Linked DNA regions of Homo sapiens: all the other regions are reported to be linked to region 2. The links are microRNA targets in miRTarBase. Many come from high-throughput screens and were not tested one by one. Region 2 holds a microRNA gene; each other region holds the end of a gene's coding sequence.

Evidence for each region. The annotated mature microRNA hsa-miR-3944-5p reads UGUGCAGCAGGCCAACCGAGA and lies in region 2 at 1,052-1,072, shown strand. An mRNA with a match to its seed (bases 2 to 7 or 8) in the 3' UTR can be bound and repressed. Matches are read on the target gene's strand: a 7mer-m8 pairs with bases 2 to 8, a 7mer-A1 pairs with bases 2 to 7 and ends in A, and an 8mer does both.
Region 1: the mRNA of SCAMP2 is a reported target of hsa-miR-3944-5p. Seed matches in the 3' UTR shown: 7mer-m8 at 3,311-3,317.
Region 3: miRTarBase lists ENPP6 as a target of hsa-miR-3944-5p. The part of its 3' UTR that is shown has no 7-base or 8-base seed match.
Region 4: the mRNA of DEPDC1B is a reported target of hsa-miR-3944-5p. Seed matches in the 3' UTR shown: 8mer at 2,980-2,987.

The regions. Positions count from the first base shown.
Region 1 is chr15:74,841,718-74,845,778 of GRCh38, forward strand. SCAMP2 (secretory carrier membrane protein 2) reads right to left here. Exons shown (of 9, transcript NM_005697.5): 8 at 3,756-3,876; 9 at 2,013-3,500. The coding sequence ends at 3,366. ULK3 (unc-51 like kinase 3) reads right to left here and starts at 1,439. Exons shown (of 16, transcript NM_001099436.4): 1 at 1,287-1,439; 2 at 563-703; 3 at 358-478. The coding sequence starts at 1,388. RefSeq lists enhancers at 433-958, 1,027-1,938 and a silencer at 1,201-1,920.
Region 2 is chr10:133,368,626-133,372,692 of GRCh38, reverse strand. It overlaps MIR3944 (microRNA 3944), which reads left to right and starts at 1,030; the gene lies at 1,030-1,137. It overlaps ECHS1 (enoyl-CoA hydratase, short chain 1), which reads left to right. Exons shown (of 8, transcript NM_004092.4): 2 at 1,936-2,133; 3 at 2,662-2,789; 4 at 3,671-3,770.
Region 3 is chr4:184,087,317-184,091,377 of GRCh38, reverse strand. ENPP6 (ectonucleotide pyrophosphatase/phosphodiesterase 6) reads left to right here. Exons shown (of 8, transcript NM_153343.4): 8 at 1-2,672. The coding sequence ends at 201. All of the region lies in intron 1 of LOC124900826 (a long non-coding RNA gene), which reads right to left. Among named protein-coding and RNA genes, the nearest start is that of ENPP6, 130 kb to the left of the region's middle.
Region 4 is chr5:60,594,275-60,598,335 of GRCh38, forward strand. DEPDC1B (DEP domain containing 1B) reads right to left here. Exons shown (of 11, transcript NM_018369.3): 11 at 2,638-3,640. The coding sequence ends at 3,479. Among named protein-coding and RNA genes, the nearest start is that of DEPDC1B, 100 kb to the right of the region's middle.

The sequences.
Region 1 (4,061 bases), not on the chromosome of region 2:
CACAAGTCTCCCCACCTCTCAGAAGCTTCTCTGGATGCCCCAGCCCTTGAGATCCTGCTCTTTTCCTTGGCACAGCACTTGAGTCCTACCTACAGGACTCTGGAATGTTCTACAAGGTCCTTATATTATGTTCTATGTATGGAAGCCTGAACACCCCACAGAGGGGTTACCCCCTCATCTCTCCCACAGCGTCCTTGAGCAAGGGTTGAGTGTATGAGATAAACAGGACCATAAAATTTCAGGCTGTGCAGGAGGCAGCTGCAATGCGTGCCAAGGCTCTAAGCCTGGGGGAGGGGTGGGATGGTGGGGGGCAGAGAACAAGGGACAGAGTGTCAGGCTGGTGTCACAGGCCTTTACCTAATTGCTGCATGAAGACACGCGCCACCTTCTCAGGCAGAATCCTGCGGGTATGGATGAAGCGAGACAGGTCGCCCCCTGCGCAAAACTCCATGATGAGGTAGATATTGTCACTGTCCCACTGTGTTTAGAGGCAGAGAGGCGGCCTGAAGAGAGTGTCCCTTCTCCAGCTCCCTTTGGCAGCGGCCCCGCCCCAGGCTCACACCTGAAAGTCTTTCAGCTGCACAATGTGGGGATGTCGAATGCCCTTGAGGATCTCAATCTCCGTGAGGAGGTTCTCCACCGATGCCTTGTTCAGACTTTTCTTGGCTACACACTTTATGGCTACCACTTCACGAGTGTCCTTCTGCGAGACAGGAGATTTGGGGACTCTGCCTTGAGGGGGCCAGGACCCTTGTCTGACTGGAAAGGCTCTATCTGGTTCCCTCTGTTCCCCCACCCCGCCCCTCCCCGGGTCTACCTACTGCACACCAGCACCGGGCTTCCCAGCTTTCCCTTGTGAGGCCAGTGAGGAATGCTGATTCTGGAATCCTGGCTTCCCGACACAGCCTCAGCCTGGTCTTCTCCAACCCTCGGCTAGCTGATCCATTTCTTTGCATTCTGGAGTGCTCCCGGCAGAGGCATGTCACTCAGGGTTCTAGAACCGCCCACTCTGCCTCCCAACTGGCTCCAGTCCCAGACTCCTCCCAGCCCACCAGGTAACCTGTTTTGAGCCTGTTCTTCAGCCACTGACCCTGCAGGTGGGTGCAGGTGCGCTCTTTAAGACCTAAGCGTGGCAGTCGGCTCCAACCTCCGCCGAGGGTCAGCTGGGGCGAGGCCGGCCTCCCGCCCCTAACTATTCCCACACTGTCGCTAACCTCTCAGAGTCTCCCCGGCCGGCACCAGCCGAGCTAGCTCGGGCGGGCACGGGGCCATCGGCCGGCACCCACCTTGGCGTAGGCCTTGTACACCGTGGCGTACGTGCCGCTGCCCAGGCGCTCGGTGAGGATGAAGCCGTCCAGGCGCGGGGGACCCCAGCCGGGCCCCGCCATTCCGGCCGCCTGCGCCCGCGCGGGCGCTTCCTCGCTGCGGGCGGCGGTTCCGGCGGGTTGCGGGGCGGGCCGAGCACTGGGTGGCTCCACGCTGCCCCCAGCGCCGCCCGCCGGAAATGCAGCGCGCATCGGGGACGCGGATCCGCCCGGCTCCCGGCGCCCCTCCCCTGTCTCTGGGCCTCGCCGGGTCACGCGCCCCGCCAGTTCCTGCAGGGCCCACGTGGGGATACGGAGGCCCCGCGAGCCTAGAAGTTAACAACGGAGGACGGCCGGCGTGGTCTCCGGGGACTCCTAGCGGGCGCAGAGGCGTCTAGAGATCGCCCACGTGAGGGCGCGGGCGGCGGAGCGGGCGTGTGTGGGGGCGACGGCGTCCGGGAGGCTCCCAGGGCCCCTCCCCAGGACCCGCAGCTCTGAAAGGAGAGCTACTGGCACGAGAAGGCGCCTTTGGAAGAGGCCGCGTTGGCTTCCCAGGCCTCCCAGCTGCTTTTCACTTTTCTGAGGAAGGGCCTTGACCTATTTATTGCATCTTAACTGTCCCCGCTCTCCAATCTTAGCAGCGGCGCCCAGCCCCTAATCCTGTGGGCTGCCCCGTCCTCCCAAGTCCACCAGACATGTGGACCCGTGTTGTCTGAAAATGTTTTTATTTTTACTTAAGCACAAAAATTGAGACGTAACATATACATTTGTACATAGAGGGGAAAAAATACCAGAAAGGAGTTCATAAAACCCCAGCCGCTGCCAGTATCATTCAGTGGCTGGGGCCTGCGGCTGTCTCGGGCCCAGAGCCGGAGGCTAGTTTTGTGGGAAGGCACCCCAGTCCACACACCCACTCGGCAGCCTCGAGGGACAGGGTGCTGGTTTTAAGGGTGGACTCCTACGTGTCCCATCACAGTGACACACCCCCCAGGGTGTGAACCAGACTCCACTGGGTATTAGGGGGCCCTCCGAGAGATGGCTTATCAGTCCCTGCTGAGGGATGCGGTTCTGGACTGGCTGGCCCTGCCCTTCCTGAAAGTCTGGATGCTGCTGATGGGGAGCATGGGCGGGGCAGGTGGCATCTGAGGCAGAGACAAAGGCAGCCGTCCCTCGGTTCGGGGAGGGGGGGGGGTAGTCACAGCAAACAGGGCCAAACCAACCACACCAGGACAGGCAGACCCCACCCTCCTAGAAGACGCTGGACGCTAGGCAGGACAGCTTGGGGTCAGTGTCCTTGGTCCCTTCCAGTCCCCAAATCCCAACCAACGGCATTGTACATTCAGAAAGTCTGAAGAGAGTAAGGCTCAGCAAGGGGAGGGCTCCAGAGGGCTCAAAGTGCCATCCCCTGCAGGAGGGTGCAGGGGGATAAAGGGCTATTAATCCGTTTCTCAGGAACACGAGGCAGGGAAGAGCTTAAGGCAACCAGCCTTCTCTGGATCCGTTTATGAGGCAGAGAAGAGCTTGAGGCAACCAGCCTTCTCTGGAAGCCTGGAGACCACTGGAGTGACCTGGGGAACAGATCTGTCCACCAGAACCTGTGAGAGGCTTATTCCCAGCCCAGGCAGGAAGGACTGGGCTGTGTCTAAGAAGCCAGATTCAGGCCAGGCCTGCAGGGTGGGGGAGTCAAGGCCCAGGACCCTGGCAGAAAGCTCCAGCTGGGATGGGCCCAGGTCAGCCTGTGATCCCAACTGTGTGGGGGTGTCTGTGTGTGCACAGGACGAAGAGAACTTCAGTCCCACTGCTTCCAGAGACAAAAGAATCCTACCAAACCATCACCAGAGAAGGAAAGAGAGCTTTGTTTTTTTTTGTACATAGAGGGGGAAAAAATTCCCTGTCCCTCCCGTTCCAGGGAGAGCTGGTCGCTGAGGGAGGAGGAAGAGCCACGGCAAGAACCCTGCCAGGTCTGTGCTGGGCACAACCACCACCACATAAGGCACCCACGGAAAGTGCAGCTCAGAAGGCAGGCGAGAGAAAGGCTGAGGGGGAGAGAAGAGAGGAGGACTAATTCCCCTGGAAGGCTCCTTGGGCAGCAGATGAAGCAGCTCTGTGGAAGGTTCTGCTGCTGAAGATGCCCTGGGAAAACTCCTCCTGGGCCTGCTGGAAGCTGGCCCCTGTCCGTCGGTAGAGGGAGTGCACCTGGCGAAGAGGGGTGGGGTGAGAGAAGCCTGTCCTTTGGGCCCACCAGGAAGCCAGCCATCCAGGTTATACTCCCAAAGGGGTCACCAGAAGCCTGGCACTGCCTGACCCCCCACCCAGATCCCTGGAGAAAGGTACTGGACCTTTGGGGGCCTAGGATGCCCAACTGCAGTGGTGAAAAACATCTCGTGGCAAGGGCAGGAAACGGTTGCCTGCCTCCTCCCATTTGCTGTCAGCCCTGCCCACACCACTCACCCGCTGCAGGAGGAAGACTGAGAGCACGGCACAGAGGGTGAAGAAGCCAGCCACCACCATCATGATGACTGATATGGCCAGGGAATGATTATCCAGTGTAGACAGGGCTGCAATCCAACCGCTATAAAGGGAAGAAGAGGCCAGAGGGAGCAAAGTGGGAGTGGGCTCCAAAAGTCAGCATAAGGGGCTCTTCTCCAAGTGGCTGCTGTGTCCTGACCATCACCTTGGCATCTCCCCACAGCACAGGGAGCCCTGTGAGCCAGAAGCCCTTGGCCTGTGAGGCCAGACCTCCGTGAAGGCTGACAG
Region 2 (4,067 bases):
CACCCCCACCCCCTGCCTGGCTCTGCAGGAGGCCACTCTCACCAGGCCACGTCCTGCGGGAGGCCCGGCGGCTGGCTGGTACTGCCCCAGTGCCAAGACCTCTGGCCAACTGGGCGCAGGGTGGGGGTTGTAAAAATCCGGGGTGTTCCCTCGGCTCTAAGAGCAGGCGTAGCTCCTGTGCAGCCGGCCAGCCCGAGAACAGGAGATGCAGGTGCATTTTGTCCTGGGTGCCTCCTGACCAGGGCCACCCCTCAGAGGGTCCTAAGGGAAAAGCTGACACCTCCTCCCCAGCCACAGGGGGCTGCCCTCTTCCTCCCTCGTGGCTCACCCGGGGCCCCACTCATGAGCGGCCATCACCGGCTCTAGTATCTGAGGAATCTTGGGCCATGCCTTGGGCTGGGGAAGAACTCTTGCTTCCTCTTCCTCCCTCACCCTGTGTAGCAGTGGACCACTGAGTTGTGTTGGTTTCATCTCCATGCTCTCCTTGGCCTTCGGCTTCTCCACCCTGACAGCAGCCCTTTCCTGGATCTTGCATGGCGGGCACTGCTGCCAGACACTTCACCTGTGATCTTCCAGTTACCCCTAGAAACCCACAGGATACGGCGGGGCACAGTGGCTAATGCCTATAATCCCAGCACTTTGGGAGGCTGAGGCAGGTGGATCACCTGAGGTCATCAAGACCACCTTGGCCAACATGGTGAAACCCCATGTCTACTAAAAATACAAAAATTAGCCAGGTGTGGTGGTGTGTGACCGTAGTCCCAGCTACTCGGGAGGCTGAGGCAGGAGAATCACCTGAACCCTGTAGGCAGAGGTCGCAGTGAGCCAAGATTGCGCCACTGCACTCCAGCCTGGGCAATAGAGTGAGACTCGGTCTCCAAAAAAAAGAAACCCATAGCACAGGGACTATGATCCCTGCTCTGCCACTAACGGAGGCAAGCATCCAACACACAGGCTACCTTTGTCTTTTCAGGTTCACCTTCTCACCCCTGGAACGCCATTGTCCTTTGTCTCCTTCCCACCTTGCTGTCCACCCAGCAGGCGCAGGTCCTGTGCAGCAGGCCAACCGAGAAGCGCCTGCGTCTCCCATTTTCGGGCTGGCCTGCTGCTCCGGACCTGTGCCTGATCTTAATGCTGCAGGAACACCCAGGATTTTCACATCCCCCACCCTGCGTCCAGTTGGCCAGAGGTCTTGGCACTGGGGCGGTACCAAGTGCAAGGAGCTGCCTTACACCCCCTCACCTGTTGGCATTTGTTGAAAGAAGGTGTTTCCTGGTGCCTTGTCTCAGCAGAGTCCAGGGCTGTCTCCAGAGTGGTGTCCTGGGAAGAGCTGACCAAGGCATATTAGGAGAAGGAAAGCGGCTGTGGGCTGTGTTCTGTGCTGGGGATTTTTCTTTTTTTCTTTTCTTTTTTTTTGAGACGGAGTCTCACTCTGTCACCCAGGCTGGAGTGCAGTGGCATGATCTCAGCTCACTGCAAGCTCCACCTCCTGGGTTCATGCCACTCTCCTGCCTCAGCCTCCCCAGTAGCTGGGACTACAGGCGCCCGCCACAACACCCGACTAATTTTTTGTATTTTAGGTAGAGACGGCGTTTCACCGTGTTAGCCAGGATGGTCTCGATCTCCTGACCTTGTGATTCGACCGCTTCGGCCTCCCAAATTGCTGGGATTACAGGCGTGAGCCACCGCGCCCGGCCCGGGGATTTTCTTTAGGACATGTTCAAACACATGTGAAAGCAGAGAGAATGGTACCAAGGCTACCATCTATCCTTGTGGCTGAGAGCTACACCTGGAGCCACTGAGGACTCGGCAGGGAGCCCTCAGAGGGCCTCTTGGGGTCACACTGTATCCACCGATGGGGCCACATCCCTTCCCCCACTCTCCCCAGTTTGATACCTGTGTGAATAGATACCCCTTTTTGCCTTCTTGCTCCAGGTGCTAACTTTGAGTACATCATCGCAGAAAAAAGAGGGAAGAATAACACCGTGGGGTTGATCCAACTGAACCGCCCCAAGGCCCTCAATGCACTTTGCGATGGCCTGATTGACGAGCTCAACCAGGCCCTGAAGACCTTCGAGGAGGACCCGGCCGTGGGGGCCATTGTCCTCACCGGCGGGGATAAGGCCTTTGCAGGTACGCGCGGCAGCAGAGGCCTTTGTGTCTGGGCAGATGTGGGAGGCACGTATGGCCTTGGGAGAAGCCTCCAGACAGATTTGCGCCTCTGTGATGGCAGAGGCATGCGACTGGGGACTTCCTCAAATATCGAGTGAAGACGGTCATGGGAACGGCTTGCATGAGCAGCTTTGTGTATGCCAGAGAGCTGCATGTGCTCCACCAGCAAAACAGCTTCTTCAAAGGGGTTTAGGTCCTTGGCAGTCAGGCTTTGTGTGTGTCAAGGGCTTATGCCCTGACAAATATGCCTAGCCTCTGTGGGCGCCTCCCTTGCACCTGCTGCCTGCCTCAGGGCCCCTCTGCGTGACTTCTGTTCTAGCTGGCATTACAGCGTCCCTACAGCTGTCCACGTGGCCTGGTGTCAGCCGTGCCCAGCAACCCCACTGCCTGTGTCTGGTGTGCTCTGAAGTTCCTTGTTGGTCTGAGAGATATAGGATGGGTGGGCTCTCTGCTCTCTGGTAACTGGAACCTCCTTTCCACTCCTGCTAGCTGGAGCTGATATCAAGGAAATGCAGAACCTGAGTTTCCAGGACTGTTACTCCAGCAAGTTCTTGAAGCACTGGGACCACCTCACCCAGGTCAAGAAGCCAGTCATCGCTGCTGTCAATGGCTATGCCGTGAGTGTTGCTGCCAAGAGTCTCCTCCTCTCGTGGTTGAAGGAACCGTGCTGTGCATACACAGCATAACAGATTTTTATTTTGAAGAGGCCTTTAGTTCCCAGGCCAGCAGCCTCCTTTCCTGCCTCATGGTGCTAAAGAGCCAGGAACTGTGTGGAGAGGACACCTCCTGGCATCTGCTTTTTTCGTGGCTGTTCACCTGACAGCTTCTCCCCAGCAAGCCTCTCTTCCAGGGTGGGGGAAGAGAGGTGTTGGCTTTGGCTACATCTATAAACTAGCTTCTTTTGCTCCCCTTGAAAGCTCTGTGTCCTGGGACTATTTGAAGTGCTGAGACTGATCTTGGCCTATAGGGAAGGCAATGTGATCATTTCATGACGCTCCCTGCCGTGTAAGCCAGGGGTCTGCGGATTGTGATCATTTCATGACGCTCCCTGCCGTGTAAGCCAGGGGTCTGCGGATTGTGATCATTTCATGACGCTCCCTGCCGTGTAAACCAGGGGTCTGCGGATTGTGATCATTTCATGACACTCCCTGCCGTGTAAGCCAGGGGTCTGCGGATGGAGTTTTCCCGGCACAGCCACACCCACCTGTGCACCTAGTCTCTGTGGCTGCATTTCGGCCACAGCAGCAGAGTTGAGTCGTGGCAGCAGAGCCTGTAAGACCCTCATGGTCCTTTACAGGATGTTTGCCAGCCCCTGGTAAACAGCATCAACCATCTGTAGTTAACTTATCATAACAATTATCTAGTTTGGTGCCACCATGTTAGTCTTTGTCATACCCCCAACACTGTTTCTTTTAAATGGAAAATTTGAATAAGCAAGCAGAGTGATTTCTGACTGGGTTCCCCTGGTAAGACTCTCCTGATGCCGAATGTTTTACAGTTTGGCGGGGGCTGTGAGCTTGCCATGATGTGTGATATCATCTATGCCGGTGAGAAGGCCCAGTTTGCACAGCCGGAGATCTTAATAGGAACCATCCCAGGTAAAGAGTGACACTGTCTCTGGCATAGATGCCTTAGGTAATTACTCAAAATCTGCCTGTGTCTCAGGGCCCACAGCTCATATCTGACCAGAGGCCCTGGATGGACAGCCCCATGGCTGGTCAGTGGTCCCTCTGTGGACAGCCACGGAGGCTAGAGTGGTTGTGACAGAGCTTGGGGGGGGCCTTAGAGTCCCGGGACTGTGACTGTGCCCACATCTGATGGTGTTGGGAGAGGCTGGTCCTGGGTAACGCTGGCTTCTAACCATGACAGTTCTTGCTTGTGATTCGTGTCCATGG
Region 3 (4,061 bases), not on the chromosome of region 2:
AAATCCAACTTCAGAGCTGCTCCTATCAGGTCGGTGGACGTCTACAATGTCATGTGCAATGTGGTGGGCATCACCCCGCTGCCCAACAACGGATCCTGGTCCAGGGTGATGTGCATGCTGAAGGGCCGCGCCAGCACTGCCCCGCCTGTCTGGCCCAGCCACTGTGCCCTGGCACTGATTCTTCTCTTCCTGCTTGCATAACTGATCATATTGCTTGTCTCAGAAAAAAACACCATCAGCAAAGTGGGCCTCCAAAGCCAGATGATTTTCATTTTATGTGTGAATAATAGCTTCATTAACACAATCAAGACCATGCACATTGTAAATACATTATTCTTGGATAATTCTATACATAAAAGTTCCTACTTGTTAAAAAAGATACAAACCTTGTTTTTCCAGAAGGTAGGAAAATCCTAGCTTTCCATTTGTGCAGTTATATGTCATTTTCTCCTTTCTTTTCACGTTACTCAGGATGAACTCTCTGAGCAGGGACCTGCTCCTGCAGCAACCAAACTTGGAGTGGTTATTGCAGACAGACGTGGCTCTGGGCCCCTCTCTGTCCCACCTTGCACAAAGGACCCCCTCAGACCAGGCCCTTGTCTGTGCCCTGTCCACACCCAGGAGCCATCCTCAGTGTCTGTGGCCACAATCCTGTACTGTTCCTTCCATCCCTGATAAAAGGAGGTCTACATGAAAGCAAAAGCTACTGTCTATTTCTGACCCAGCTCATGGAATTTTTTCATCTTATACTGAGCTCCAGAAAGGACGTAACTTAGCATGGATCACCAATCAATCAAAAAATAAATAAATCACTAAGGATTGGAGAACTCATAGAACAAGGTGAAAGACATGAGTGCCCTCCCAAAGTCTGAGTGCACGAAAATTTCTCTCTTGCCTTGAGGAGCAGAAAAGCTTCTGATGGACATGGGCTTCTGTGAGACTTATCACACATAGTGTATCGTGGCATGAAGCCCGGCACATAGCAGGCCCTGCATATTGATGGACAAATGGATGGCCTGCCTGCCTTCCCTGTCCGTTCACCTGTGCAAAGGCTTCCTCAGACATGCCACTCTGTGGCTCCCAATATAGGGTGCAGACAAGAGCAATCCCTGACATGACATTATAGCCTGGGAAAGGGCTGGCTCACTGATGAGAATGTGGAGGCATCAGCAAGGATCTCGGTGGGTTGCTCAGAGAGGTGATGCACTAAGCCTTAATCCTGGACACCAGTACCCCTGCAGCATGGCTTGCTCAACAACAGTCTTTGAGTGGCATAGAATTCCAAAGAAAATGGTGCTGGGTGGAGAATGGAGAGAGCATGATGGAGCAGAGTCCCAGTCACTGACCAACTAACTGGTCGTTTGATTAGGAAACAGTTTGGCCAAAGTACCACCTTTGAGACCTAAGTTCTTTTGATACCTTTGAGAAGAGCCACTGAGCCTGAGTTGAAATATTTTTAGCTTAGTCATCTGTGTTTGCTATAGGAGAAATTGTAACACAAGAAATAACTCCTTTTTACATGATCATTTATATCTATATACATATATATACTTGCATACACTATCACTGCATTAAAAAATGAGTTTGGGCTGGGCATGGTGGCTCACACCTATAATCCCAACACTTTCGGAGGCCAAGGAGGGACAAACGAACCCTTGAGGCCAGGAGTTCCAGACTAACTTGGGCAACACAGGGCGACCCCCATCTCTACAAAACATAAAAGATTTTTAAAAAATTAGCCAGGCATGGTGGCACATGCCTGTGGTCTCAGCTACTTGGGAGGCTGAGGCAGGAGAATCATTTGAGCCCAGGAGGTCAAGGCTGCAGTGAGCTTTGATCACACCACTGCACTCCAGCCTGGGCAACAGAGCAAGACCCCATCCTCCACCCCCCCCAAAAAATAGAAAGAAAAAAAAAGTTTGCACTAATTGAGGTACATCTGCAAGTGAGACTTTTTGTCAGGAAAAGGCAATATATCAGGTCTCCTCAGGACGATGGAGGCCTTATATGGTGTGTTACCTTGAAAACTGAATATCAACGTTCACCTTGATTCAGGAAAGCTGGGTGCTGTCTCCATGCCATGAATCATGAGAGCAAAGGATCACTGCTTAAAAATACTGAATTTACCTTCACAAAAGATTTCTAAAGATTTATGTAATGTGTTTTAAAAGCGCCAGTAAACCATCGGATCAATTGGAAAGAAGGCAACTCTTCAGCCTTTGTTATCTAGCTGAAAACAAATGACAACTTTCAAAACATTGGCAGTAGTTGTTGAAAAAGACGTCTATTGTTCAAAGTTTCTTTCTCCTTAAAGGACGGTGTTCCAATGAATTCAGTAGAGCCCACTTTCCTCCACTGTGGAGGAAGAATCCCTAAGAGATACTCAAATGATTAAATTAAAATTGGATCATCAAACTCAAGAGAGGCATAAACTTAGACACAGTCTTGCATTTTTGTCTTTCCTGAACTCTTCTGCCATTTTCCTCCTTCACTCGTCCTGAAAATCTGCAAGTTACATAATAAAACTTTAGATATTTGTCTGACAAAGTGTAATTACTCAACTGAATAAATGACTGAGAACAAGTTACAAAAGGAATCATGAATCCTGGTAAACAATAAAGAAGATTCAGACACTGAGGGAAAAAAATAAAGCTTTTTACTTAAATAATGCATATATTTTTTATGGCTTAATTATTTGGTGAAAATTTGTTCCCTTTTATTTTTGTTTTAAAATTACATTGTTCTCCTTAGGAAAATTCCACTTTCTCTAAATGTATTTTTTTCCATAGGACTAAAATCTGCTAGGAATATGTATAGACACTTTGTCTCCTGGATTACTTTTCAACTTCACGGCTGATTCCAGGACAAAGATAATTGGGTTGGTCTACCGAGGACAAATGAAAGGAATGAGCCTCAGATTAAAGATGAGATGACTTTTTAATAATCGCCATTCTGACTGGCATGAGATGGTATCTCATTGCGGTTTTGATTTGCAGTTCTCTAATGAACAGTGATAATGAACTTTTTTTCATATGCTTCTTGGCTTCATAAGTGTCTTCTTTTGAGAAGTGTCTGTTCATATCCTTTGCCCAGTTTTTGATGGTGTTGTTTTTTCTTGTAAATTTGTTTACGTTCCTTGTAGATTCTGATATTAGACCTTTGTCAGATAGGTAGATTGTAGAAATTTTCTTCCATTCTGTAGGTTGCCTGTTCACTCTGATGATAATTTCTTTTGCTGTGCAGAAGCTCTTTAGTTTAATTAGATCTCATTTGTCAATTTTAGGTTTTGTTGCCATTGCTTTTGGTGTTTTAGTCATGAGGTTTTTGCCCATGCCTATGTCCTGAATGGTATTGCCTGGGTTTTCTTCTAGGGTTTTTATGGTTTTGGTTTTACCTTTAAGTCTTTAATCTATCTTGAGTTAATTTTTGCATAAGGTGTAAGGAAGGGATCCAGTTTCAGCTTTCTGCACATGGCTAGCCAGTTTTCTCAGCATAATTTATTAAGTAGGGAATCTTTCCCCATGGCATGTTTTTGTCAGCTCTGTTGAAGATCAGATGGTTGTAGATGTGCAGTGTTATTTCTGAGGTCTCTGTTCTGTTCCATTGGTCTATATATCTGTTTTGGTACCAGTACCATGCTGTTTTGGTTACTGTAGCCTTGTAATATAGTTTCAAGTCAGATAGCATGATACCTCCAGCTTTGTTCTTTTTGCTTACAATTGTCTTGGCTATACGGGCTCTTTTTGGACGATTATTAAAAAGTCAGGAAACAATAGATGCTGGCGAGGCTGTGGAGAAATAAAATGCTTTTACACTGATGGTGGGACTGTAAATTAGTTCAACCATTGTGGAAGACAATGTGGCAATTCCTCAAGGATCTAGAACCAGAAATACCATTTGGCCCAGCAATCCCATTACCGGGTATATACCCAAAAGATTATAAATCATTCTACTATAAAGACACATACACACATAGGTTTATTGCAGCACTATTTACAATGTCAAAGACTTAGAACCAACCCACATGTCCATCAATGACAGATTGGATAAAGAAGATGTGG
Region 4 (4,061 bases), not on the chromosome of region 2:
CCTTGGGCCCTTAAAAAATACACTATATCTACTCTGCCTGTGCTCTGCAAAGCCTGGATAACAGTACATCTGTTTACAGCATAGTTTACTCAATATTTTAAGCCCACTATTGAGATCTGCTGCTCAAAAAAAAAAAAAAAAAAAAAAAGATTCCTTTCAAAATATTACTGCTCATTAACAATGTACCTGGTCTACCAGGCATGGATCCATGAAACAAAGGGATAAGTCATTTTCAGAGTGGACAAAGCAGGACAGTCCAAGATTTCATCATGCTATAAGAACAGCACACAATTTAAAACTTGTTTATTTCTGGAAATTTCCATTTAATATTTTCTGACTGTGGTTGAGCGTGGCTTACTGAAACTGTACAAAGTGAAACAGCAGATAAATGGGAACCAGGGAACTGCTGTACTGAAGATCTCCAGTGTCCTGAGACAAAAAAGAAGGAAAGGATGGAGGGAGCCAGGGAAAGGAAGGAAGGAAAGGAAGGAAAGGAAAGAAAAGAAGGAAAGGAAGGGAGGGAAGGGAGGGAAGGGAGGAAAGGAAGGGAAGGGAAGGGAGAGAAGGGAGGGAAGGGACGGAAGGGAAGGGAGGGAAGGGTATGGAGATTGGAAAGTATATTGTATCTAGGTCACTTTATAACAAGTTATTCTTCAACTAAGTGGGTTAAAACAATAAACATTTATTATATCACAGTTTCTGTGAATAAGGAATCCAGGCACAGCTTTGCTAAGTCCTCTGGCTTAGAGTTTCTCAAAAGTCTCCAATCAAGGTGTCAGCTAGGGTAGAGTCACCTCAAGGTTTGACCAAGGGAAGATCCACTTCCAAGATCACTCGTAAAGCTGTTGGCAGGCTTCATGTCCACGCTGGCTGTTGGCCAGAGACATCAGTTCCTTGCCTGGTGGGCCTCTGAAAGGGCAGCTCACAACATGACAGCTGGCTTTCCTCAGAGCAAGCCAGGGAGAGAATAAGAAGGAAGACAAGCAAGATGGAAGCCAGAGTTTTGGAATCTAATCTGAGAAGTGATACCCCATCACTGATGATATATTCTATTATTTAGAAATGTGTCATTTTAGCTCCACCCACACTCAAGGACAGGAAATTACACAAGGCATTAAATACCAGGAGGCAAGGATCACTGAGGACAATATAGATGCTGTCTACCATGGAACGGAAAAGCAAAAGCTGTTTTTTTCCTAATACGTAGACAATGCCAAAGAATCATACTAAATGTTTAGAATTAACAAGTCTAGCAAGGTTCACTGTAAACAAAACTCAGGAAAAATCAGTTTTATACCATACAGAAGCAACAAACACTATAAGGAAATTTACAACACCAGCATTTACAAAAGAATTAAACGTCAACATTGATCAGCTGAGTAACTGTTGAAACAGGAAATGGGTACTACAGTCTTTGAAAATTTTGATACTTTTTTTAAAGTATCAAATACTTGGGAACAAATCTAACAAAAGATTTGTAAATCTTCACAGAAAAAAGCAACTTTTTTTCTCATTTATTTCAAATAAAATGGAAAGGTAAACCATGGTCATGGACTAGAAGACCTAATATTGTAGACAGCAATTCTCTGCAAATTGATTTATACATATAATACAATCAAAATTAAAAAAAAAAACTCAACAGGGTGAGTGTGTGTCTCTGCATGTGTGTGTGTGTGTATGCAGGCTTGACAATCTGATACCAAAATTTGTACAAAGACGAAAAAGTCAAAAAAATGGAAAAAAATGTTCAGCCATATTAATAATCATGGAAATGCAAAATAAAACCATAATCAGACACTATTAATAACCACCACATTGACAACATTTCAAACTCTGACGATAGCAAGTTTCGGTGAGGATATTAAACAAAAGGAGTTCTCATACACTGTTAATGGGAGCGTTAATTGGGACAACCACTTTGGATAACTGCTATTATCTATTCATCAATTTCACACTTAATTGGTGCTTATGTTTTATGATCTCTCCATAAATATGTTATATTTTTTTAAAAAAGTAATCTTAAAAAAAAAAGGAAAGAAAACAACCACATATACTTCCAAAGACAAGCAACAGGAAAAGAGATTCTGAAAAATAAACTCTACCTCGGAGTGAAAATAGAGCAGAAAGAAGAATTATTCTTGGCTCTAAACAGAATGCCAAAGTCTGAGAATGAATCCTGAAACACTAAAAATCTCCCATTACATTATGTATTTGGAATGTAAGGTGGTACCCAAACCAATAGGAATACTTTGGTCCATTTTTAAAAGCAAAATCTGCATCAGATGTAGGAGGTATTTTGCTACAAGAGAACAGGAGCAAATCTTAAGTGCAAGGAAAAATCAGTCCAAGGAGTACTGTAAGCCAATTAGTGGGTGTTGCTCTCAGCTTTCTGGGTAATTGCGCTCAGAGGAAGACTTTCAGATGCTCCATAATCCAAGTGCACCACAATTTTACAAAAGGACAAAGCAATGCTAAAAAATTGGCAAAGTGCTCACCTAAAGACCAGTCAGTACAAAAGCCCAAATCTTACTTTTCATTTTCTCATAGAAATAAATGACTGATGAAGACCATTGGCAAAGGCATTTGAGGATGCTCTCTAACTGATCTAAATAAATGCCAAAAAAGAAACACGAGGTATGGCATTTTTAAAAAAAATAAGTTTATTTACATTTCACTTACTTTCAAAAGGATGAAAATATATTTATAAAGGAAGTAGTCTCATTTTATTTAACCCATTTGCATTTGACTTAGAATCAGAGGTCTAAGGGTACCCAAAGAATTTATCCAGTTCAACTTTCCATTTTTAGCTAAGACTGAAATTATACCATTGCAGGCAGATGAAAATCTACTCCACTTATAGGTAAACATCAACTAATATATATGTTATAAAAACACTAGCTTTAGTAAAATCTGTCATAACATCCAATAAATCTGCAATAAAAGACATAGCTATCACAATATAAGACATTAAAAAATTTATGTGCAGCAATAAAAACTGGAATTTATACAGGAGAAATGATAATTGGCTACTAAGTCAATAGCATCACAGTAACAGTACCCAGTGTCTTTCTTATTCAAGTATACACGCTATTTTTAAGACTTAAAATTAAGTCTTAAGGCTATAATAAAGATATCAGTAGCTAGGATGTATATACACAATTATTTAATAAACACCATGAAAAAGAAAGCACAGAGATAAAAATACCCTTAAATTCTGTAGCAATTACAAACATGTTAACATTATCACTATATATTTGACTCATAAATTTTAACCAATTTATACACTTTAAAACTAGCATTGAGTTTTATAAAAATACTAATGGCCAAACATTTTTAAAAACTAAGGCAATCTTTATCTATATTTCAGTAGTCTTTGTTTTATGCTTTTCTTTCTTCCACCACCAAAGTCTTTCTCCTAACCACCATTCACTCAAAACAACAACAGTGGTCTCTAGCACCTGTTGCTGTGGAAGTATTATTACATTCGAAAACTTCTAGTTCTTTGAAATGGTTGGAAAGGCTTCTTTAGTGCCCACATTAGCAGCTGTGGTTTCGGTTTGGGTTTTTCAGGAAACAGAAGTGCTGCACTTTCTGGTGTAGGAAATCGTTCTTGATAGACTTCAGGATAGGATTTCTGAAACTAAAAAAATGAATGGTCCAAGAAGAGTAAAAAAAGACACATAAAAGCCAATAAAATTTGGCAGCCAAATTTTAAGAGTTTCTGAGCCTGTATTTTCCTGTTTTTGTTTATTTTTGTTAAAACATTTCATTCCAATTTCTATAGAGCTAATCCATCTTTCCTTTGATCTAAGCTTCAAATAAGTTCCCCTTTTAATCATGTTTCTGAAAATTCCCCCCACTGCCAACTATAAATAGACCTCACTTTTTATATATTCACAAGTAACTCTGACTTCAAAATAACTTCTGTTCTACACAGTTAAATAAAATTTTGGCCCAATTACATTTCATCATTTCTCTGTTTCTCCAACTCAGCCCCACCAGCTTCTGCTCAAATGGAAGAGGGAATATTCTGGTGTATATTACTTTGTGAAAAGCTTAAA